Regions from separate parts of the Homo sapiens genome. Here all the other regions are linked to region 3. Evidence: fine-mapped expression QTL. A gene starts in region 3. Each other region holds a variant in brackets. All regions are shown on one strand. Distances are from middle to middle. Region 1 holds the start of TTLL13 (tubulin tyrosine ligase like 13). Region 2 has its middle 34 kb from the start of SEMA4B. Region 3 holds the start of SEMA4B (semaphorin 4B).

What was found.
Region 1: its variant is fine-mapped to the expression of SEMA4B in whole blood (INTERVAL, PIP above 0.99).
Region 2: its variant is fine-mapped to the expression of SEMA4B in whole blood (INTERVAL, PIP above 0.99).

The regions. Positions count from the first base shown.
Region 1 is chr15:90,247,858-90,256,035 of GRCh38, forward strand. It overlaps TTLL13 (tubulin tyrosine ligase like 13), which reads left to right and starts at 1,699. Exons shown (of 15, transcript NM_001396017.1): 1 at 1,699-1,951; 2 at 2,763-3,030; 3 at 3,697-3,737; 4 at 5,392-5,510; 5 at 7,898-8,028. The coding sequence starts at 2,774. It also overlaps a transcript of CIB1 not described here. The variant G/A (reference allele first, on the strand shown) is at 4,049.
Region 2 is chr15:90,163,617-90,171,794 of GRCh38, forward strand. It overlaps the pseudogene RN7SL346P. Among named protein-coding and RNA genes, the nearest start is that of SEMA4B, 34 kb to the right of the region's middle. RefSeq lists a silencer at 191-346. The variant T/A (reference allele first, on the strand shown) is at 4,707.
Region 3 is chr15:90,197,042-90,205,219 of GRCh38, forward strand. It overlaps SEMA4B (semaphorin 4B), which reads left to right and starts at 4,289. Exons shown (of 14, transcript NM_198925.4): 1 at 4,289-4,694. The coding sequence starts at 4,538. RefSeq lists an enhancer at 3,837-4,808 and a silencer at 3,981-4,740.

The DNA of each region.
Region 1 (8,178 bases), 51 kb after region 3:
AGCTGGGACTACAGGCGCCCGCCACCATGCCCAGCTAATTTTTATTTTTTTATTTTTTTATTTTTAGTAGAGAGGGGGTTTCACCGTGTTAGCCAGGATGGTCTTGATCTCGTGACCTGGTGATCCGCCCACCTTGGCCTCCCAAAGTGCTGGGATTACAGGCGTGAGCCATCACACCCGGCCAGATATTTGTTTTTTTAAATACGAGTTCTCACTCTGTCACCCAAGCTGAAGTGCAGTGGCATAATCATAGCTCACGGCATCCTCTTAACTCCCATGCTCAAGAGATCCTCACACCTCAGTCTTCCTAGTAGCTGGGACTACAGGGCCTGCCACCTAGCCTTGCTGATTCTATGAAAGATTTTGAGGAGATGAGGAAGGCTGGTATCTTTCAAAGTGCAAAGTGATTTTGGTATAAACAGTTTCTTTGGGTTGCATTACATAGAAGTTTATCACTAACCTATGTTCCTGAACTATGAAACATGAATATGTGGGCAAAGAAATAGCTTATCTTTATAGACAATTAACAACAACAAAAACAGTCTATGAATTAGAGAATGTCCATGCCTTTTTTAGGCCGAGTTCAGTGGTTCATGCCTGTAATCCCACCACTTTGGGAAGCCAAGGTGGGCAGGTCACTTGAGGTCAGGAGTTCAAGATCAGCCTGGCCAACACAGCAAAACCCCATCTCTACAAAAAATACAAAAATTAGCCAGGCATGGTGGTGCGCACCTGTAGCCCCAGCTACTTGGGACGCTGAAGTGGGAGGATTGCTTGAGCCTGGGAAGCTAAGTAAAGTTGCAGTGAGCTGCGATCACACCACTGCAATCCAGCCTGGGCTACAAAGCAAGACCCTGTCTCAAAAAAAAAAAAAAAAAAAAAAAAAAAAAAAAAAAAAAAAGTCCATGTCTTTTTAAAAGGATGGAAACATTTTAAGTGTTCTCTAGATTTAGCCACACAGTATAATTTTAGGGTGACAAGTTGAGCTGAGTTGGGTGGAGGTGGTGAGCAGAAATCAAAGTGGGTGGATGTCAGGAAGAGAAGGTGACAGTGAAGGAGCACTGTGATAAGGCGGTTTGGTTATTCCTTAATGGAGCTGTCTCAGTCCACCAGAGGCAAAGCCTTGAAAGGCACGTGGCCTTACCATGGCTGTCACTCTTGAATGCATAGGCTTTGCTAGCTAAACTTAGAGTTACTAAAGAATTGAGCCCGGCGTGGTGGCACGCTCCTGTAGTCACAGCTACTGGGGAGGCTGAGGCAGGAGGATTGCTTGAGCCCAGGAGGTCCAGGCTGCAGTGAGCTATGATGGTGCATTCCACTGCACTCCAGCCTGGGCGACACAGCAAGACCCCGTCTCAAAAAAAAAAAAAAAAAAAAAAAGGGAGAATTGAGGAGAGGCAAACAGCTATTTGTCCTCATTATATGCTTGGCCAAATTCCTTGGCCCGGGGTTTAGGGAAAGATGGGAGTGCGGCGAGAACTGGCTTCGAAGCGGGAGGGCTGCAAGTCCCATGATACACCGGAAGAATCTGGCGTCGAGGCCGGCCAGCTCCAAAGGGCAAACGCTGTCTCCCCCACCCAAGGTAGCCTCGGCCCGCGCCCAAGTGGGTGTGGCTGCGGGAAAGCCCCGCCCCCAGGACGCTTCTCCAATGGGAACTGCCCTCGTGTCCATGGCAACGGCGGCGGCCACGGGCTTGCTAGAGGAAGCGCTGCCCCGGCAGCCGCAGCCACGGCCACCGGGAGCTAGGAGTGAACCCCTGCGGGGGAGCAGCTTCCCCCTCGCGATCGTGGGGACAGCCAGTCCTGTGAAACGAGGAGGCGGTTCCGGACGCCCAGAAACGCCCAGGGAGACCTGGAGCCGGGGGAAGAGGGGACATGAGCGGCCAGCTGAGTCCATCCCCAGGCGGCTAGGGGCGGACCCAGCAGCCCCTCAGCTCTCCTCGTAACCACGGGTGGGCAGTCTCCACCGTCACAGCCCAAAGGGTCTTAGCCATCGGGTGCCTGTCCCTAGTGTGTACACGTGCAGAAAATGAGTCCTGGGAGAGGGAAAGGGCCAGCGTAGGGGGCTTTTGGTCTTCAGCTGTATTTTATTTTATTTATTTATTTATTTATTTATTTAGAGACAGACTCTTGCTCTGTCGCCCAGGCTGGAGTGCAGTGGTGTGATCTCGGCTCACTGCAACCTCCACCTCCCAGGTTCAAGTGATTCTCCTCCCTCAGCCTCCCGAGTAGCTGGGATTACAGGCAACGCACCAGCACACCCAGCTAATTTTTGTATTTTTAGGAGAGACGGGATTTCACCGTGCTAGCCAGGCTGCTCTCCAACTCCAGACCTCAAGTGATCTGCCCGCCTCAGCCTCCCAACGTGCTGGGCCGATTCAGCTGTATTTTAAAGCGAAGGTCCCCCCAGCACTCACAGCCATCCTCTTTCCCAATTAGGAACAAAAGAGCCATGGTCATGGCCCATACCATCTGTGTCCAACTCCTGAAGGCACCCCTGTGCGTTGTATGATCCAGTGTGAACCTGGATGATTGGGGCTTGTCATCAGGGAATCCACATCTCACTGGTGTCTTCCACCCCCATGCACCTCCACCTACCTGGACACATCCCATTCCTCAGTGAAACAGTTTTGTCCTGAAGGGGCAGCAACTTTCCCTTATAACAGCATGAAGGTCGTTCTGGTGGATTCCTTCAGGCCTTCTAGGGCCTGAGGGAGGTCTGAGGTCTGATATACACTTCATTCCCACCCCGCAACCCCTCAGAATCTGAGAGAATGGAGCCGAGTACCTGTAGGACCATGGAATCAGAGGAAGACTATGTTGAGGAAAAGGAATCTGAGAAGTGTGTTAAAGAGGGAGTTACCAACCCCTCTAACTCTTCACAGCAGGCTCTCTTAAAAGCTGACTATAAGGCATTAAAAAATGGGGTTCCCTCACCCATTATGGCCACAAAAATTCCGAAGAAAGTCATAGCCCCAGTTGACACAGGCGACTTAGAAGCTGGGAGGAGGAAGAGAAGGCGGAAACGCAGGTAACTATTCCCTAGATCCCCTCAACTGCCCAGCTCCAGGGAGTCACCCATTGGCCTCCCTTCAACATCTGGAGGAGCTGGGATCTCAGATCTTCCCTTTAGCCTACAAAAGAGGACAGGAAATGCTGGAGTGTCATTAACCCTTTGATACAACAGAAACAAAATTCAGAACCATTTAGGCTGGCTCATTTTGGAATCCCAGCCTGTTTATGTCATCCTGGTCTGTCTTTTTTTTTTTTTTTTTGAGACAGAGTCTCGCTCTGTCGCCCAGGCTGGAGTACAGTGGCGTGATCTCGGCTCACGGCAAGCTCCGCCTCCCGGGTTCAGGCCATTCTCCTGCCTCAGCCTCCCGAGTAGCTGGGACTACAGGCACCTGCCACCACGCATGGCAAATTTTTTTTTTTTTTTTTGTATTTTTAGTAGAGACAGGGTTTCATTGTGTTAGCCAGGATGGTCTCTATCTCCTGACCTTGTGATCCACCCGCCTCGGCCTCCCAAAGTGCTGGGATTACAGGCATGAGCCACCGCGCCCAGCCCATCCTGGTCTGTCTTTTAAGTGGCTTCTAGAGAAAAGGAATTGTGTTGTGAATTTGTTGGATGTCTTTTCATCTGAGTACCTGTCCTTCCCTCCCACTCTTCCTGATTTATGCTATTCCTCCATTCCAGATCACTGGCCATCAACCTGACCAACTGCAAGTATGAGAGTGGTAAGCACCCAGCCCGTCGCTCACACTGTGGTGCATAACATGGTGCCTACAGCTGCTGTTCTTCCTCTGGAATGGACCCCCGATCAGGCTTCCAGCCCCTGGGGCCTGGCGGGCTTGCCTCTAACCTGTACTGAGCTTCCTAGGTGTCCTCTGCCTCAGACACTGGAAGCTGAGACATTGCCATTCCAGGTAGTCTCAGTGTTAGGGAGGGTATCCTCACAGTAAACAAGAAAAAAAAAAAAAAAAGTCCAAGAGCCACTACTGCCCCACCCTTCCCAGATTTTATTTATTTATTTTTGAGACAGAGTCTC[G/A]CTTTGTCATCCAGGCTGGAGTGCAGTATTGCAATCATAGCTTAATGCAGCCTTGAACTCCCGAGCTCAAGCCGTCTTCCTATCTGAGCTTCCCAGTAGCTGGGACTACAGGCCTGCACCACTATGCTCACCTAATTCTTTTTTTTTTTTTGAGACCGAGTTTTGCTCTTGTTGCCCAGGCTGGAATGCAATGGCGTGATCTCGACTCACTGCAACCTCCACCACCCAGGTTCAAGCGATTCTCCTGCCTCAGCCTCCCAAATAGCTGGGATTACAGGCATGTGCCACCACATCTGGCTAATTTTGTACTTTTAGTAGACAGAGTTTCTCCATGTTGGCCAGGCTGGTCTTGAACTCCTGACCTCAGGTGATCCACCCACCTCAGCCTCCCAAAGTGCTGGGATTACAGGCATGAGCCACCATGCCCAGCCTGCCCAGCTAATTCTTAAATGTTTTGTAGAGACAGAGTCTTGCTATGTTGCCCAGGCTGGTCTTGAACTCCTGGGCTCAAGTGATCCTCCCACTTCAGCTTCTCAAAGGCCTAGGATAACAGGCAGGAGCCACCATGCCAGACCCTTCCCAGATTTTACCAGAGATGAGACAAGCTTAAAACAGTTTTTTCAAGGAAGATTTGAAGGGACTTCAACGATTAAGAAAAAAAACAATCTCCAGCTAGGTCCTTCCCCTAATATTCCCTCTGGCATCTTTATAAGGAACCACACAAGTATGGAGTGTGAAGTGCCAGTGTGACCCCACCTATAGGCAGCTCTCCAAGCCATAAACATCCCTGATTGAGAGATAAGACTGACAGGAGCAGCTGGGCACGGTGGCTCATGCCTGTAATCCCAACACTTTGGGAGGCCAAGGCAGGCGAATCTCCTGAGGTCAGGAGTTCGAGACCAGACTGGCCAACATGGTAAAACCCCGTCTCTACTAAAAATACAAAAATTACCCAGGTGTGGTGGTGGGCGCCTGTAGTCCCAGCTATTGGGGACGCTGAGGCACGAGAATCTCTTGAACCTGGGAGGCGGAGGTTGCAGTGAGCCAAGACCGTGCCACTGCACTCCAGCACAAGGGCGAAACTCCGTCTCTAAAAAACAAACAAACAAACAAACAAAAAACCAGGTTCTAGTTTTCTCTGCTAGGTATTTTGGAAGGGCCCTGACAGCCCCTAAGAACTTGAAATTGTCATGTGGTAACTAAAGTACAGGGCTGAGGCAAGAACTACCTCCCTCTTCAACCTGCCCTCGGGTCAGGTGTATACCTTACCTGACCCAGCTACACAGTTCCAGGGCTTGTTGCTGGTGTCCATGCTGGCACTACTGATCTCCCTGTCTCTGCAGTGCGTCGGGCAGCCCAAATGTGTGGCCTGAAGGAGGTGGGGGAGGATGAAGAGTGGACTCTGTACTGGACAGACTGCGCTGTCTCACTGGAACGAGTCATGGACATGAAGAGGTTTCAGGTACCCATCTCCTGACCTGAGAGCCGACAGGGGCTAGGGCCCCAGAATGACTATTCCCACCTCCTTGCCCAGGCACCCAAGACTGCTACTCTTTGTGGCTGTCCCCTTGTGCAGACAAGAAAGACCACCCCCAGGGTCTTCTTTTCCAATGGAAAGATCTCCTCTTGGAGATTGTGGGTTTCTGGAATTACCCAAAGGAAGTTTCTGGTGGGCACATCCTATCTCATGATTTGCACTTTGCTTGGTGGCATCTGTGTGTAGCTGGCCCTCTCCAGGGTGGGTGAGCACATCTTAGGGAGAATACTGGGAGGCAGCTTCAGAGCTAACAGCAGGGCCAGTTGAATGATCCAGCCTTCTAAGCAACTTAGTTTAGCATTCCACATCCATTAGGAGACTGCGGGGTCCTGCCTGGTGGCAAGAAATTCAGGAATGATCCACCGGGGTCCACAAGAATAGAACTGCCTTGTGACATTTTTATTATCCTCTAATTGGGCGTTTGTGGTGATCAGCAATAAAATAATTTAAAAGAGTCTGCAGGCTTATTCTTTGGGGAAGCCAGGCAGGAAGTTGAGGAAATTAAAACCTGTCCCACAACTAGTCTTGGGAGAGGTGCCCAAGAGAGAAAGCAAGTGCTAGAAGTTCTCAAGAAGCTCCAGAGGAGGTTGGGTGTGGTGGCTCACACCTGTAATCCCACCACTTTGGGAGGCCAAGGCAGGTGGATCAATTCAGGTCAGGAGTTCACTTGAACCCAGGAGGTGGAGGTTGCAGTGAGCAGAGATCATGCCACTACACTCCAGCCTGTGTGACAGAGTGAGACCCTGTTTTTTTTTTTTTTAAAAAAAAAAGGCTGGGCACAGTGGCTCACGCCTGTAATCCCAACTCTTTGGGAGGCCGAGGCGGGCGGATCATGAGGTCAGGAGTTCAAGACCAGCCTGACCAACAGGGTAAAACCCCATCTCTACTAAAAATACAAAAATTAACCAGGCATGGTGGCGCACACTTGTAATCCCAGCTATTTAGGAGGCTGAGGCAGGAGAATCACTTGAACCCAGGAGGCGGAGGTTGCAGTGAGCCAAGATTGTGTCATTGCACTCCAGCCTGGGTGACAGAGTGAGACTCCATCTAAAAAAAAAAAAAAAAAAAGGACGCTCCAAAGGAGGGGCATTTGTAAAATGAGGAATGCAGGCTGGGCACGGTGGACGGTGGCTCTCGTGCCTGAAATCCCTTTGGGAAGCCAAGGTGGGCAGATTGCTTGAACTCAGGACTTTGAGACCAGCCTGGGCAACAGGCAAAACCCCATCTCTACCAAAAATACAAAAATAAAAAAATATTAGCCAGGCGTAGTGGTGCATGCTTTAGTCCCAGCCACTTGGGAGGCTGAGGCAGGAGGATCTCTTGAGCCTGGGAGGCAGAGGCCGCAGTGAGCTGAGATCACACCACTGCACTCCAGCCTGGGCGACAGAGGGAGACCCTGTCTCAGGGAAGGGGGAAAAAAAAAGGATAAGGATAACAATAATCAGCAGCATTTACTGAGGGCTTACTGTACAACAGACTCCGTGTTAAGTGCTTTTATAGTATTACCCCATTAAATCCTCAAGAACAGCCCTGAGCAGCAGATATCCCTTGGTTAGGACATGGAGGGTCAGAAATACTAAGTTCATACAGTGAGTGCGGCCAGTGATGGGGAAACCCAGTGGAGAGCACTTAGCATACTCTTTGTGGCTGTCCCCCTGTGCAGACAGGAAAGACCATCCCCAGGGTATTCTTTTCCAACGGAAAGATTCTCCTCCTGGGTCTCTGGAATTACCTGAAGGAAGTGTCTGGTGGGTACATCCTATCTCATTATTTGTTCTTTACTTGGTGGCATCCCGGATGCTGCCACCCATCCAGCAGGACAGAGCAGCCAGGGGTTTCTGGCAGGCACCAGGGTGATGCCATGCCCTCAGTGGGTGCCATGGCATCACATTCCTTGGGGCTGGTTCTTAGTTTCCTTTTATCTTTTGTGTCTTTTGGGGAATGCTTTCGTCTCATTGTCTGCTTTGTGCTATCATGCATTAGTTATTGTTAGAGGACTAGGCCTGGTGGTCTGAGGGGTGTTAGAAGGTGGACTGTGGAAGCCACAGTCTTGGCTAGTTACATTCCTTCTCACTGCCCCTCATTTGCTGAGCTCAGTGTGGATGTGTGTGTTGGGTAGGAGTCACAGAGGGTTTTCTCACCTGCCTTAAGGAACCTTCCTATGTTTGCCCTTGGGGTCCTTGGTGCAGTGCTTACCTCCACTGTGACTTCTCCCTTAACCTTCCCAATCCTCCTCCACTGCTTCCTGGGATGCCCAGGTGCTAGGAAATGCCACTTACTCTGGGGGCTCATACTAACTGGCTGTGTTTCAGAAAATCAACCACTTCCCTGGCATGACAGAAATCTGCCGCAAAGATCTGCTGGCTCGGAACCTCAACCGCATGTACAAACTCTATCCCTCTGAGTACAACATCTTCCCCCGCACCTGGTGCCTCCCCGCAGAGTGAGTGGGTCTGGCTTCCCATGCTGAGATACCAGGGGGAGGAAAAGGGTCGCTCTCAGAGCTCTGGTCTTGTGACCTAGGAATGTCTCAGAGGGATGGAAGTGGAATGAGAAAGTTTCAGCTGGTCAAAGAAAAGAGGGTCTGAGACTG
Region 2 (8,178 bases), 33 kb before region 3:
CTTGCCCACATAGGAAAATGGCAAAGGGAATTCTAGAACTCAGCTGGTCTGACTCTAAGCACAGTGTTCCTCCCCCCATGACCATATGCATGTAAATTCCCTTCCAGTTGCATGGAAGATGGAGTTCTTCACGGCTAAATTGTTAAAACCAAAATGCCATCTTTAGATGCCTTTATTAGGCTCATTACAAGCTTATCTGGGCCGGGCGCAGTGGCTCACGCCTATAATCCCAGCACTTTGGGAGGCCGAGGCAGGTGGATCACCTGAGGTCAGGAGTTCAAGACAACCCTGGCCAACATGGTGAAACCCCATCTCTACTAAAAATACAAAACTTAGCCAGGTGTGGTAGCACATGCCTGTAATCCCAGTTACTCGGGAGGCTGAGGCAGGAGAATCACTTGAACCCAGGAGGTGGAGGCTGCAGTGAGCCAAGATCACGTCATTGCACTCCAGCCTGGGTGACAGAGTAAGACTCCATCTCAATTTAAAAAAAAAAAAAAAAAGCTTATCGGCCGGGAGGCCAGCCATGTTGGCTCATGTTTGTAATCTCAGCACTTTGAGAGGCCAAAGTGGGAGGATGGCTTGAGCCCAGGAGTTTGAACCAGCCTAGGCAACATGGCAAAACCCCATCTCTACCAAAAATACAAAAATTAGCCAGGCATGGTGGCACACACCTGTGATCCCAGCTACTCAGGAGGCTGAGGCAGGAGAATCTCTTGAACCTGGGAGGTGAAGGTTGCAGTGAGCCGAGATCATGCCATTGCACTTCAGCCTGGGCAACAGAGCAAGACTCTGTCTCAAAAAAAAAAACAAACAAAGATCAGCAGTATGGTGGTATGTCGCTGTAGTCCCAGCTACTCGGGAGGCTGAGGTGGGAGGATGATTTGAGCCTGGGAAGTTGAGGCTGCAGTGAGCCAAAATAACATCACTGCACTCCAGCCTGGGCAACAGAGACAGACCCTGTCTCAAAAAAAAAGAAAAAGAAAAGAAAGCTTTTTAAGTCCTTGCCATGGCCTTCTGTTAGATCTGCAGCAGGAGAGGGAGGAGACGAGAGGCACCCTTGTGATGGAATATGGGGCAGCTCCTCCAAATGAGGGCAGAAATCTATACTTATTGGTAACTTTGCAAATATGTGTCTCCGTTGTATGCAGACACACATACAGAAAGTCTGGAAGGATGTGCTCCAGAATGCTAATAGCAGCATCTCTGGGAATCACCTTATGGGTGATTTCACTCCCTTCTATATACTTGTCTGAAGTTTTATTTTATAATGGGCAAGTATTTCCTTTATAATCAGGCTTTTTTTTTTTTTTTTTTTTTTGAGATGGAGTTTTACTCTCGTTGCCCAGGCTAGAGTGCAATGGCGTGATCTCAGGTCACTGCAACCTCTGCCTCCTGGGTGCAAGTGATTCTCCTGCCTCAGCCTCCCGAGTAGCTGCGATTACAGGTGTGCACCACCAAGCCCAGCTAATTTTTTTGTATTTTTGGTGGAAATGGGGTTTCACCATGTTGATCAGGCTAGTCTTGAACTCGTGACCTCAGGTAATCCACCTGCCTCACCCTCCCAAAATGCTTGGATTACAGGCATAAGCCGCTGCACCCAGCCAATAAAGCCATTTTCATTCTGAAAAAGAATTGAAAAAAGCTACTGAATAGGCCAAGCATGGTGACATGGGCCTGTAGTCCCAGCAACACAGGAGGCTGTGGCAGGAGGATCACTTGAGGCCAGGGACTGGAGGCTGCAGTAAGCCATGATTATGTATGTGAATAGCCACCACACTCCAGCCTGGGCAACACAGTGAGACCCTATCTTATGAAATAGGAAGGAAGGAAGACCACTGAATAGAAATAAAAGAATGGGAAGAAGTCCTGATACATGTGTCTCATGTTTTCAGTCAGATCCCTCTAGGGATGCAGGTGGAATCTGTGTCACCCATGAATGGACCCTTTACTTGGGGGGCATTCAAAATATGAAGGTAATGAGGACTAAGTAGACATCTTCCAATGAATGACACAGAAATTATAAACCTCTTGGCAGTCTCTTTGAACAACTCTCATCTTTCTCAGGATCTTAATGATTCATGTCACAGGCCCTTCCCAAAGATTGTGTGGTGGCTCTGGAGGAAAACCGAGAAGTGATATTACTCGTTTCTGGATAATTGTCAGTGAGTCAGACCTCGTTCAGCGCTCTGGAGTTTCCAGGCCGTTAACTTCTCTGCCTGAACTCATGAGTCAGGGTCAGTCAGCCCAGAGCTGCAATGTGTACGTGCTTCCCGGCCCTGCTCTTCTGGCCCGCCCCCAAGCCTTCACGCATGCACCCCTGCAGGCACTTACCAGCCTCCTCATCCGTATATCCTGGAAAGGGTGCAAGCATGCCTGGCTTAGTCATCCATCCACAGGAAGTTTGCACAGCCCTACCTGAGTGCTAAGATCAGGCTGTAAACTGCCAGAATGAAACAAAAGAGGGAAAATAAATATCAGCACTCTCCCATAAATTTTGCAATAGTCAGCTGTAGTCTAGCTGTGATTTAGAGCATTTGTTTTGTGAATAACCGGATGTGAATAATCTATATGTGAATAACCTATACGTCTGTCAATAGTGATCCATTATGATACATTGTGGTGGTGGGCACCTTGTAATCAGCTACTCAGGAGGTTGAGGTGGAAGGATCACTTGAGTCCAGAAGTTCTGGGCTGTAGTGCTCTATGCTTATAGTGTGTCCACACTAAGTTGGGCATCAATATGGCGACCTACTGGGAGCTGGGGGACCACCAGGTTGTCTAAGGAGAGATGAACCAGCCCAAGTCCGAAACAGAGCAGGTCAGAACTCTGGTGCTGATCAGTAGCAGGATGGTTCTGTGAATAGCCACTGCACTCCAGACTGCGCAACTTAGCAAGACTCTGTCTCTAAAAAAATGTGTGTGTTTGTATAAAATACATTGTAGTGTATCCAGAGAACAGATTACCATGCAGCTATTTAAAAGAACGAGGTAGAGCTATGTAAGTTGACATAGAAAGGGTCAGTTTGGCCGGGCACGGTGGCTCACACCTGTAATCCTAACACTTTGGGAGGCCGAGGCAGGAGGATCATTGAGCCCAGGGGTTCCAGGCTGCAGTGAGCTATGATCACACCACTGCACTCCAGCCTGAGTGACAGAGTGAGATCCAGTCCCTAAAAAAACCCAAAAACCAAAAACAAAAACGTAAGGTCAGTTTTAAGAATAAGAGGAACATTGGATAGCAGTGTATATATTATGCTCCTATTTGTGTGCATGTCAATTATTCTTATTTTTTAAATTATTTTGCTCACTCTGTCACCCAGGCTGGAATACAGTGGCACAATCTCGGCTCACTGCAGCGTCGACCTCCCAGGCTCAGGTGATTCTCCCACCTCAGCCTACCAAGTAGCTGGGACTACAGGCTCATGCTACCACGCACAGCTAATTTTTGGGGTTTCACCATGTTGCCTAGGCTGTTCTCAAACTGCTGGGATCAAGAGATCCTCCCGCCTCAGCCTCCCAAAGTGCTGGGGTTACAGGTATGAGCCACCATGACAGGCATCTTATTTTTATTTTTAAAAATTATAAATGGCATTTTCTCATTGTAAAAGGATAAAAATACAGAAAAGGCTAGCAGAAGACACGAAACTCTCTCATCACCCCTTGCATCAGTCAGGACAGGCTAGGCTATGCTGTGGTAACAAACATCTCTAAAAATGTCAATGGCTTAAAACAACAAAGATTTTTTTCTTGCCCATGCTTTATTCCTAACATGGACACAGAGATTCAGCTCATTGTAGTCCGCACCATAGTCACAGTGCCACCAACATATGATGCCACCATCCCAACGTGATACTTCACAGTTCACCATTATAGAGGAAGAAAGCATGAGAACCAACACAGGATCTCAAATGCCTCCCCTGGAAGGGATACTTGACACTTTTCCTCACATTTCACAAGCAAATCACAAGGATACACCTAACTTCAAGACAGTGTGAAAGTATAACCTTCCCCTGGACACAGGAAGAGAGCTGGAAATATTGATTCACCTTGGTAATGTCTACCACCCCATCCCAAACCACCCTCCTTCCCAGAGGGGAGTTAACATGTTGCTGCTGAATCCCTCCAGGCCTTTTTGATATATAGGCATACCTTGGAAATACTGCAGGTTCAGTTCCAGACCACTGCAGTAAAGCAAGTCACATGAATTTTTTTTGGTTTCCCAGTGCATATAAAAGTTATGTTCATACTATCCTGTAGTCTATTAAGTAAGCCATCATATTATCTCTAAAAAATATGCAGATACCACAGAAATTAGCCAGGCATAGTGGCGGGTGCCTATAATCCCAGCTACTTGGGAGGCTGGGGCAGGAGAATCGCTTGAACCCAGGAGGCGGAGGTTGCAGTCAGCCAAGATCATGCCATTGCACTCCAGCCTGGGTGATAGAGCCAGACTCTGTCTGAAAACAAAAAAAAGGATATATCTTTTTAATTTTTTTTTTTAATTTAAAAATTTTTTTGAGACAGGGTTCCACTCTGTCACCCAGATGGGAGTGCAGTGGCACAGTCATGGCTCACTGCAGCCTTGACCTCCTAGGCTCAAGCGATCCTCCTACCTCAGCCTCCCAAGTAGCTGGGACCACAGGCGTGCACCACCATACCTTGCTAACTTTTATATGTCTTGTAGAGACTGGGTTTGCCCATGT[T/A]GGCCAGGCTGGTCTCGAACTCCTGGGCTCAAGCAATCTGCCTGCCTGGGCACCACAATTGCTGGGATTATAAGTGCAAGCCACCACGCCCAGCCTGTTTTGCGTACTTCCTGTTTGTGTGTTCACTGTCATAGTGCCTTTAATTTTCCTTTGTCTTTTAAACTTGGCTAATTGGCTCAAGAAGACTAGTTTTTCAGCCTGTTTTGGCTTTCAACATGCCTTCCTCACTAAGCTTAATCCTTTGTACCTAGAGATGTGGAACTCTTGCTTTTGTGTGAACAGAGGACTTAGAGGCCATCATAGGGTTATTAATTGGCCTAATTGCAACATCTTTGTGTCTCAGGGAATAGGGAGGCTCCAGAAGAGGGAGACAGAAGGGAGGGAGAATGACCCGTTGGTGGCCGTTTGATGGAGCAGCCAGAACAAGCAAAACGTTTATCAATTGTGGCTGAGCACAGTGGCTCACACCTGTAATCCCAGCACTTTGGGAGGCCGAGGCGGGTGGATCACCTGAGGTCAGGAGTTCGAGACCCGCCTGGCCAATATGGTAAAACCCCATCTCTACTAATAACACAAAAATTACCCGGGCGTGGTGGCGCACTCCTGTAATCCAAGCTACTCCGGAGGCTGAGGCAGGAGAATCGCTTGAACCCCAGAGGCAGAGATTGCGGTGAGCCAAGATCACACCACTGAGCTCCAGCCTGAGCAAGTGAAACTCTGCCTCAAAAAGAAAAAAAAGAAAAAAAGTTTATCAATTAAGTTTGCCATCTTGTATGGGCCCGGTTCATGGTACCCCAAAACAATTAAATAGTAACATCAAAGATCACCAATCACAGATCACCATAACAGATATATTAATAATGAAAAAGTTTGAAACGTTGAAAGAATCAGCAAGATGTGACACAGACACTAAGTGAGCACATGCTGTTGGAGAAGCTGTGCTCATAGACTTGCTTGACCTTGCCACAAACCTTCAATTCATAAAAAAATGCAGTATCTACGAAACGTGATATCTTCAAAGAGCAATATAAACGAAGTTTGCCTGTATATAGTTTTGACATACATTAATAGTTTACAATAAATTTAAAATATATCTGGCTGGGCACAGTGGCTTATGCCTCTAATCCTAGCACTTCGGGAGGCCAAGGTGGGTGGATCACCTGAGGTCAGGAGTTTGAGACCAGCCTGGCCGATATGGTGAAACCCCATCTCTACTAAAAATACAAAAATTAGCCGGGCATGGTGGTGAGCACCTGTAATTCCAGCTATTCAGGAGGCTGAGGCATGAGAATCACTTAAACCTGGGAAATGGAGGTTGCACTGAGCCAAGATTTTGCCACTGCAGTCTAGCTTGGGCAACAGAGCAAGACTTAGTCTCATAAAAAATAAAATAAAATAAAAATATACCAGCCTAGGCAACATAGTGAGACCCCCAACTCTATTTAAAAAAAAAAAATAGAAAAATAGCTGGGTACAGTGGCTCATGCATGTAATCCCAGCACTTTGGGAGGCCGGGGCGGGTGGATCACCTGAGGTCAAGAGTTCGAGACCAGCCTAACTAACATGGTGAAACCCTGTCTCTACTAAAAATACAAAAATTAGCTGGGCATGGTGGCACATGCCTGTAATCCCAGCTGCATGGGAGGCTGAGGCAGGAGAATCACTTGAACCCGGGAGATGGAGGTTGCAGAGAGCTGAGATCATGCCATTGCACTCCAGCCTGGGCAATGAGAGCGAAACTCCGTCTCAAAAAATAAATTAATTAATTAAATAAAAATGCAAACATTAGCCGGGTGTGGTGGCATGCACCTGTAGTCCTCGCTACTTGGGAGGCTGAGGCACAAGAATCGCCTGAACTTGGGAGGTGGAGGTTGCAGTGAGTCGAGATCACACCACTGCACTCCAGCCTGGGTGACAGAGGAAGACTCTGTCTCAAAAAAAAAAAAAAAAAGAAGAAGAAGAAGAAGAAGAAGATATTAGCCAGGCATGGGTGCATGCCAGTAGTCCCAGCTACTAGGGAGACTGAGGTGGGAGGGTCCATTGACCACAGGCGGTCAAGGCTGCAGTGAGCCATGACCATGGCTGGGCGACATAGTAAAACCCTGTCGGCCGGGCGCGGTGGCTCACGCCTGTAATCCCAGCACTTTGGGAGGCCGAGGCAGGTGGATCACGAGGTCAGGAGATCGAGACCATCCTGGCTAACACGGTGAAACCCCGTCTCTACTAAAACTACAGCCGCTTACAGAAGTTGTAATAGTGATGTCTAACTTGGAAATGAAGAGTTTTTGAAAGTGACTGTTTAGAGGGCTGGAAGGAGGATATGCAAAAACACATGCAACAACAAAAAATCCATCCATCAGAGTTTTCTAGGTCAATATCTGGACCAGTTTCTCTCGTATCCCGTAGCCCTTGTTGTGATGTGGGGTAGGAGAAAGGGACGTGGACATCTTACTGGCCAGGTCTTATCTTTTTTTGTTTTGTTTTGTTTTCTTGAGACAGTCTTGCTCTGTCTCCAGGCTGGAGTGCAGTGGGCGTGATCTCGGCCTCCCGGGTTCAAGCAATTCTCCTGCATCAGCCTCCTGAGTAGCTGGGACTACAGGCATGTGCCACCACGCCCAGCTAATTTTTGTAGTTTTAGTAGAGACAGGGTTTCTTTCTTTTTTTTTTTTTTGAGACAGAGTCTCTCTCTGTCACTCAGGCTAGAGTGCAATGGCACGATCTCGGCTCACTGCAACCTCCACCTCCCAGGTTCAAGCGATTCTCCTGAGAGACAGGGTTTCACCATGTTGGCCAGGATGGTCTTGATCTCCTGACCTCGTGATCTGCCTGCCACAGCCTCCCAAAGTGCTGGGATTAAGGTGTGAGCCACTGCGCCTTAATGGCGTCTTAATGCCTGGGCACATGGAGGAGTGAGTCAGGTACAAAAAACAAAAACAAAACAAAAAAAACCCCTGCTCAACCCTGCTCTCTGTCCATGGACCAGTACCCCTTCATCCTATCTGGGCTCTCCTTCCTACACCCTCGGGTTTCCCAAGGCTGAGTGTTGTGTTGAAAAGAGCAGCTTTCCAGGTAAAGAAGGACTGGCCAGGACCGGTGCCTTATACCTGGAATCCCAGCACTGTGGGAGGCCAAGGCGGGAGGATAGCTTCAGGGCAAGAATTGGAGACTAACCTGGGCCACATGGAGAGACCCCTGTCTCTACAAAAAATAAAAAATTATACTTCTGGAATCTTCAGAAAGAAAAATAAATAAACAAAATAAATTATCCAGGCCTGGTGACACACACCTATAGTCCCAGCTACTCAGGAGACTGAGGTGGGAGGATCACTTGAGCCCAGGAAGTTGAGGCTGCAGTGAGCAATGAGCCATGATCACACCATGGTACTCTAGCTTGGACAACAGAGCCAAACCCTTTGTCAAAAAAAAAAAAAAAAAGAAGAAGAAGAAAAGAAAGAAAAAAGGACAAGTCTTC
Region 3 (8,178 bases):
CCTTACATTCACCCAAAGAATCTTGGTTCTCTTATTAGAGAGTAGGATTAGGAAACCAAGATTGGCCAGGTACAGTGGTTCATGCCTGTAATCCCAGCACTTTGGGAGGCCGAGGTGGGCAGATCGCTTGAGTCCAGGAGTTTGAGACCAGCCTGGGCAACGTGGTGAAACCCCTTTCTCTACAAAAAAATTACAAAAATTATCCGAGTGTGGTGGTGCATGCCTGTAGTCCCAGCTACTCAGGAGGCTCAGGTGGAAGGATTGCTTGAGCCTGAGAGGTGGAGGTTGTAGTGAGCTGAGATCTTGCCACTGTACTCCAGCCTGGGTGACAGAGTGAGACCCTCTCTCAATAAAAAAGAAAAAAGTAAACGAAGATTTAGGTGCTAGATCTGCTCACCCAATTTTTGTTTTTTTGGGACGGAGTCTCGCTCTGTCCCCCAGGCTGGAGTGCAGTGGCGCGATCTCGGCTCACTGCAAGCTCCGCCTCCCGGGTTCACGCCATTCTCCTGCCTCAGCCTCCCGAGTAGCTGGGACTACAGGCGCCCGCCACCACGCCCGGCTAATTTTTTGTATTTTTAGTAGAGATGGGGTTTTACTGTGTTAGCCAGGATGGTCTCGAGCTCCTGACCTCATGATCCGCGCACCTCGGCCTCCCAAAGTGCTGGGATTACAGGCGTGAGCCACCATGCCCGGCCCTGCTCACCCAATATTTTTATCAATAGCTTGAATAAAGGCATAAGGAATGGTTATCATGTTTACAGATGACCCCATACTGGAAGGGGAAGCCAAATGTATGATAATAGAATCAGTTTTCAACATGACTTCAGTGGGATGACATCTGAGCCAGAACCACTAGATTTATTTATTTTATTATTAATTAATTAATTAATTTTTTTTTTTTTTGAGATGGAGTCTCGCTCTGTGGCCCAGGCTGGAGTGCAGTGGCGTGATCTCGGCTCACTGCAAGCTCCACCTCCCGGGTTCGCGCCATTCTCCTGCCTCAGCCTCCTGAGTAGCTGGGACTACAGGCACCCACCACTGTGCCCGGCTAATTTTTTTTTGTATTTTTATTAGAGACGGGGTTTCACCATGGTCTCGATCTCCTGACCTCGTGATCCGCCTGCCTCGGCCTCCTAAAGTGCTGGGATTACAGGCGTGAGCCACCGCGCCTGGCTGGTAAAACTCTTTATTGGACCAAAGTTGATATAAAAAAAATAGTTCTGGTTGTCAGCTGACATGAGTCAGCAGTATTCTGTGACTCAAGTTGCATTCATTCATTCATTCATCCAGTACTTACTGAAGTCCTGCTTACCATGTGCCAAGCACTATTCTAGAGGCTTGAGATACATTACTTAACAAACCAAATAAGCAAAAATCTCTGCCCTCTCAGTCAGCATTCTGGGGGAGATGGGATGTCAGACAATAAAGAAAAACCATAACTAATATATCGTATGTTATTCAGTGATGAGTGCTCTGAAAAAATATCTCAAGGTATTTTTAAGGAGATAAGGGGCATATTAGGAGGAAGTTCAGATTCTTCAAGGTGATAAATGAGCAAAAGGAAGCAAGGGACTCAGTCCTGTGGTTATCTAGGGGGAGAGTGTGCCAGGTGAGGGAGCAGCCAGGTCAAAGGCCCTGCTGGTTCGGGCTACTATATATGTACCTGGTGTGGATGAGTGAGGGGAAAAGTAGTAGAGGATGCAGTGGTACTGGTGGTGAGGATGACATGGAGGGCTTTGCAGACCACTCCAAGTAAGGTCATTGTGAATGAGATGGGGGAACCCTTGGAGGGTTTTGAGCAGAGGAAAGCCCTGATCTGGCTTGTGTTGTGTGTTGTTTTGTTTAAGATGGAGTCTTGCTCTGTAGCCCAGGCTGGAGTGCAGTAGCACAATCTCAGCTCACTGCAACCTCCGCCTCCCAGGCCCCGGTTCAAGCAATTCTCCTGCCTCAGCCTCCCGAGTAGCTGGGATTACAGGCACACACCACCATGCCCAGCTAATTTTTGTGTTCTTAGTAGAGATGGGGATTCACCATGTTGGCCAGGCTGGTCTTGAACTCCTGACCTCAAGTGATCTGCCCGCCTCGGCCCACCAAAGTGCTGGGATTACAGGCGTGAGCCACCACCCCTGTCCTGGCTTGTGTTTTAAAGACTCACTCCAGCTGCTGTGTTGAGAATAGATTGTAGGGGAACCAAGGAGGAAACGGGGAGAACAGTTAGGAGGCCCTTGCAGTAACCAGGAGAAAGAGGGTGGTGCCTGGGCCCTAGGGAGCTGGGAAGTGGTCAGATTATAGATTTTCTAATGGACTGGATGTGAGGAGTGAGATAATGAGAGGAGCTGAGGGTTTTGGCCTGAGCAATTTAAAGATGGAATTGCCATTAAATGAAATGGGGAAGGCTGTAGGTGGAGCACATTTTTGAGAAGGGGGAGAGATCAGGAGCTTAGTTTGGGACATGTTGGGCTCGAGATGGTTTTCAGACAGCCAAGTAGAAATATTGAGGCCGGGTCAGGTGTGGTGGCTCACGCCTGAAATCCCAGCACTTTGGGAGGCCAAGGCAGGTGGATCACGAGGTCAGGAGTTCAAGACCAGCCTGGCCAACATTGTGAAACCCTGTCTCTATTAAAAATACAAAAAATTAGCGGGGTGTGGTGGCATAAACCTGTAATCTCAGCTACTCGGGAGGCTGAGGCAGGAGAATCACTTGAACCCAGAAGGCAGAGGTTGCAGTGAGTGGAGATTGCACCATTGCACTCCAGCCTGGGCAAAAGAGCAAGACTCTGTCTCAAAAAAAAAAAAGTTGAGGCCTTTTGGAGTTAAGGGCTGAGCAGGGCTGGACTAGGCGGCAGATAGGGGTTTGGGTATCACTGGCTGTAGGTGGATTGAACCCATTTAGAGTAAGCATCCAAACCTGGGCAATAGTAGCACTGTGGGTGCTTGGTGCTGTCCATATCCCATGTGGAATTCTGTGTCCAGTTCTGGGAGCCCCTTTAAAAGGGATGCTGCTAGCCTGCACCATGTCCACAGAAGGTGATGGAGGTACAGAAATCATGCAGCATGAGGAAACTTAGCTGTAAGAAAGGAGACCTGGGACCATGTGGGTGCTGTGCCCACCCTCTTGACAGCATCCCTGTTGTGGGAGCAGATGTGGCAGACCCTGAAAGTCGGGAGGAGAGGAAAAGAGGTGCTCTGAGGAGGCTGATTTTGGCTGGGGGTGAAGAGGAGCTTTCCTGCAATTGCAGCAAATTTATGGAGCGATGGTCTCTACTGCCATGGAAATAACTAGCAGAGGCTTTCACTCTTTTGGACTCTTAACTACAGGAGGAACTACTACATTTTTCTGTAATCCTGTGCACACTTAGGAAAAGTTGAAGTAGCTTTCCCAAAATTACTTATCCTTTGAGATTATTGCTTAGATAGTTTCTATGTTTTGTTTGTTTCTTAATGCTGTTGGGATCCACTAAATTGATTTCAGAATCTGCTAATGGTCCAGGCTGCAGTTGGAAACCCCTGGTCTCAGCAGAGCTGAACTCCACCCGTGGAGATGTTAGGAGCCAGGAGGATTAGGGGTGGGTGCCTCTGGGCTTCCACTCCAGTCTTAGGGGTTCCCTTCCCCTGCCGGGTCACGTGCAGGTTGTGAAGGTTTTACCTCCTCAGCAGTACATTAAATCCTATTATCCCACTTAAGCTAATCTTGCCCTTCCCCCACCCGAGGGCTTCGCGTGGACAGAATATTAAGCGGACAAGCCCGCAGGGTGCCTAGACTAAGTGCTGAGCTTGTAGTGAATGCCCAGCCATGACTTGCAGTGGATTGACCTGTGCAAAAATTGGACTCTCAAGCTGCTAGCCCCAGTGTCAGCACGAGCTCGGCCGAGTTCATTTGGTCGCAGGAACAAGGGGGTCGCCAGGAGCAAGAGCGGAGGGGGCGCCTAAAGGGAGGAGACCAAGGCCTAATCACCATCCGCCCCCTAACTCCCTAGGCGCATAGCGGGGACGCAGCGTGTCCCCAAACCAACGCCACTAGCAGAGGGTCCCAGAGGAGCCGGAAGGGGCCAGGGCCTGGGCGGCGGTGGGAGGGTCTGAGCAGTGGGGGCGGGGAGCTGGGGGTCGGCTTTCGTCCGCGTCCCAGCGCTCCGGCGGCCGCCGGGGCTACTGATCCCGGGCTTGGCCCCTGCGGCAGCGCCCCGAGCTGCCGCCCCTCGCGCTGCCAGCGCCCGGGAAGGAGGAAGGGGGAAGGGGGCGGGCCGGCCGGGCTCACGGCCGACTTCCTCCTTCAGCCCCGCCCTCCGCCGCTTGCGGGTGAGCTCTGCCCAAGCCGAGGCTGCGGGGCCGGCGCCGGCGGGAGGACTGCGGTGCCCCGCGGAGGGGCTGAGTTTGCCAGGGCCCACTTGACCCTGTTTCCCACCTCCCGCCCCCCAGGTCCGGAGGCGGGGGCCCCCGGGGCGACTCGGGGGCGGACCGCGGGGCGGAGCTGCCGCCCGTGAGTCCGGCCGAGCCACCTGAGCCCGAGCCGCGGGACACCGTCGCTCCTGCTCTCCGAATGCTGCGCACCGCGATGGGCCTGAGGAGCTGGCTCGCCGCCCCATGGGGCGCGCTGCCGCCTCGGCCACCGCTGCTGCTGCTCCTGCTGCTGCTGCTCCTGCTGCAGCCGCCGCCTCCGACCTGGGCGCTCAGCCCCCGGATCAGCCTGCCTCTGGGTGAGTGCCGGGGACCCGGGGACGCGGGCCGGGGGAAGGAAGGCTGCCGGGGACGTGCCTCGTGCGGAGGTGGCCGTGACAAAGGACCAAGGAGGGGACCTGTCGGAGGCACGGGATCCATTAGGACCCCTTCTTTTTTCAAGGCGCTGCGCGGAGGGAGGGAGAGGAGAGGGGAGCTGTGGGGCCGCTGGCCCCTTTCTTCAGTTTTCTTTCTGCGTAGGGATGGGGTCTAGCCCGCTCTGTCGTCCCCCCTAGTTCCCTTAGGAGGATGCACTTTCGGCGGGGTCCGCCTGCCCATCTACTTGTCTTTGATGCTGACCAGAGCCGACCGCGGTGCCGCCCCCGAGGGCGGCTCGGGGTAGAGGGAGGCCACTGCTTGCAGTCCTATAAACACTGGGGTTCTGGTATTCCCAGCAAGTCGCAGCAGGGCCGGGAGCTGTGGTGGGCGGGCAGGCGCCCGATCCTCCCTCTCCGCCCCTCCATCCCTGGCTTGCCAGTGCAGCCCCAAGCCCCAGCATGGAGAGACCTCCAGGCCCTGGGAGCGACCAGACTGCGGATGGGGGCAGCTCTGGGCGCTGACATTCCCAAGTCCTGGGAGCGAACAGACTGCGGATGGGGGCAGCTCTGGGCGCTGACATTCCCAAGTCCTGGGCGCGACCCCTCCTCAGAGTGACCTGGGAGTAGCATCCTGGTTGGCTGGGTTCCTTTCCTGGTCCTCACATCTGCTTCTGTGGCCACCTCCTGTTTCAGCCCTCCGCCCTTCCCTCTCCTTTTCCCTTCCATCCGGTTGCTTCTCCAGCTCTTCTTGGGGCACTTGGGCTTTAGATTCAGAGGGTCCTGGATCCCAAGCCCATTTCTTCCACTGGGCAAGTAAGTGCCTTCTGCTCCCAGTGCCCCACCTTTCTCATCTGCAAAATAGGCAGTCGTAGGTGCCTTGCAAGGTGTGTTACTCGGGTATGAAGTTTATAAGTGCCCAACAGATGTATCCGCAAGCCCTTTAACTTGTTGGTTGTCATATTGTATGACTTGGAATAAAGCATGTATGAATTAGAGGTTACAGACTGAAACTGTCCCAGACTTCCATCTCCTCACAGCATCCCCACCTCTAAAAGCATCCTGTTTACAAAGGGAAATAGTAGAATCAGCACTTAAATTAAGGCAGGGCCCTAGCGGCTTCAAGTAACCCTACCTGAACCCCTGTCTGAAATACTGCAGATGACCTGGGTTCAAATGCTACCTCAGCCACTTAGTAACCATGTGACCTTGAGCAGGCTACTTAAAGTTTCTGGGTCTTGATTTCTTCATCTGTAAAACAGGTATAATAACAGAACCTACCTCAAGGTAGTGAGGATTAAATCAGCTCGTGTTTGAAAAGTCGTTAGGACAGGGCCTGGTACGGGAACCGCTGAATGAGTGTTACTCAGCTCAGAGTTTACTTCTGTACATCTTGCCCAGATCTGGGGTGATTCTGCCTGGGGTTAGGACAGGGTTGGGGTGTTAGTTTGACTGTAGCCCCTTGGGTGCTTCAGCTTGTGAAGTCAGGATGAACAGGTGTAACCAGCCCCAGGCCTGCTGTCTTGCTACTTCTGTTGTGGCCACAACTCCCTTTGCCCTCAGACCCTCTCATTTTTGGGAGAAGGCAGGGTGAGATGGGGGCAGATGCTCCAATGGACTCCACTTATGGCCTTGGGAAAGCTGGGCCAGCTCATGGGACCATGTCAAAAGACGGTAGGTTTCATGTCCAACTCTGGAACTGGATGGGACAATCACAGGGTAGCTAGAAGGCAAAACTGGAGAGCAGCGAGGGGAATCGAGGGGACCTGCTTCCCGAGGAGCAGCTAGAATACTTGGTTATTATTACCAATGCAGCTGCAGGACCTGGTCCACTTCTACAAGCCCGTGACTGTTCCCAGGCTTCTGTCACGCACCAGCATTCACCTGTCAGGGCTGCCGTAGGTGGGCTTGCATTTTGTGCATTGTACCAAGGTGCCCAGCTGAGGGTTGAGAGGACCTGAAATGCAGTCCACACTCAGCTCTCCAACCTAAGAGTCCTGGAGCAAAAGACCCCTTCTGCTATGTTCTTGGGGCTAGGTCTGCCCGGAGTGGCCCATTTTTCCAGTCCCACCAAAGCCCTGGAATAGTGTAGTGGCACCTAGCTACCTGAACTTGTGAGCACGTATCTATAGTCGACTGAGTTGCCACTATACCCTGGAGTGCCCCCTCTCTGGGCTTCCTCCTGGCCCTCATACCCACCTCCTACTCTTACCTACGTGCAGGTCCTAGGGCTGGCTGGGAGTCCGAGAGGGGAATGCCCTGGTAACTGAACAGGCTCACCCTTGAGTGTGGCCTAAGGCGGTTTCCTGCCTCATCCCAGGGGGCTCATTAGATGTTCCTGGCAGTGTGCCCATCCTGGGCAGGCTCGTGGTGACCATGGGACGCCGGGCCCAGGGCCCTAGTGCCCTCCCTTGCATGCATCTTAGGAGAAAGAGTCATGGAACTGGATATTACACACCCCTCTTTCCTCCTGCCACTCACTCCTCTACTGAATTCCCACCCATGCCCCGTAAGGACCCAGATGCCTAGGGACAGTGGGGCTATGTCTGTGGTTTAAAACAAAATCCCTTGAAGTGGAGCGTCCAGCTTGCCCTGCATCTGGGGTCCTTCATAGGGAACCCTAATTATTGTTGATGAACAGCACATTCCTGGGGTGCTTAAGATGCAGGGAGCCGATTTGTGGCCTCGCCCAGTGGCCAGTAGGGAGAGGAGGATGAGGGGACAGCCACTGGGGGCTCCACAGTCAGCTGGAAATCTCTGAAAGGAACACTTCAAAGAAGTGTGTGGAATTTGGGTTCTCTTGCGTTGGAACTACCATGCAGAGCTCCAGGACCAAAGCCTCGGTCAGGAGCAGGAGTGGTGCTGAGTAGAAACAATGGCGCCCAGTGCTTCCCAGCCTGGCCACGTGGGGAGAAACAAAACACGCCTCCTCTCATGGCCCTCCAAAGTCTTTTTGGGCCACCTTATTTGGACACTTAATGGGAGTTATTATTATTGTTATTTTGAGATGGAGTTTCGCTCTGTCTCCCAGGCTGGAGTACAGTGATGCCATCTCCGCTCACTGCAGCCTCCACCTCCCAAGTTCAAGTGATTCTCCTGCCTCAGCCTCTCGAGCAGCTGAGACTACAGGTGCCCGCCACCATGCTTAGCTAATTTTTGTATTTTTGTAGAGATGGGATTTCACCATGTTGTCCAGGCTGGTCTCGAACTTCTGACCTTAGGTGATCTGCCCATCTTGGCCTCCCAAAGTGCTGGGATTACAGGCATGAGCCACCACATCCGGCCTTAAAGGGAGTTATTAATTCCCTCCTGCCCCAGAAGTGCCGGGCGGGAAAGCTCTGGACGCAGTATTTCTGAAGCAGATTGGACAGAAATCTGCAGGCCTGCAAACTGCAGTCAACAAAACGCCATTGAGCAGAGAGAATGGAGC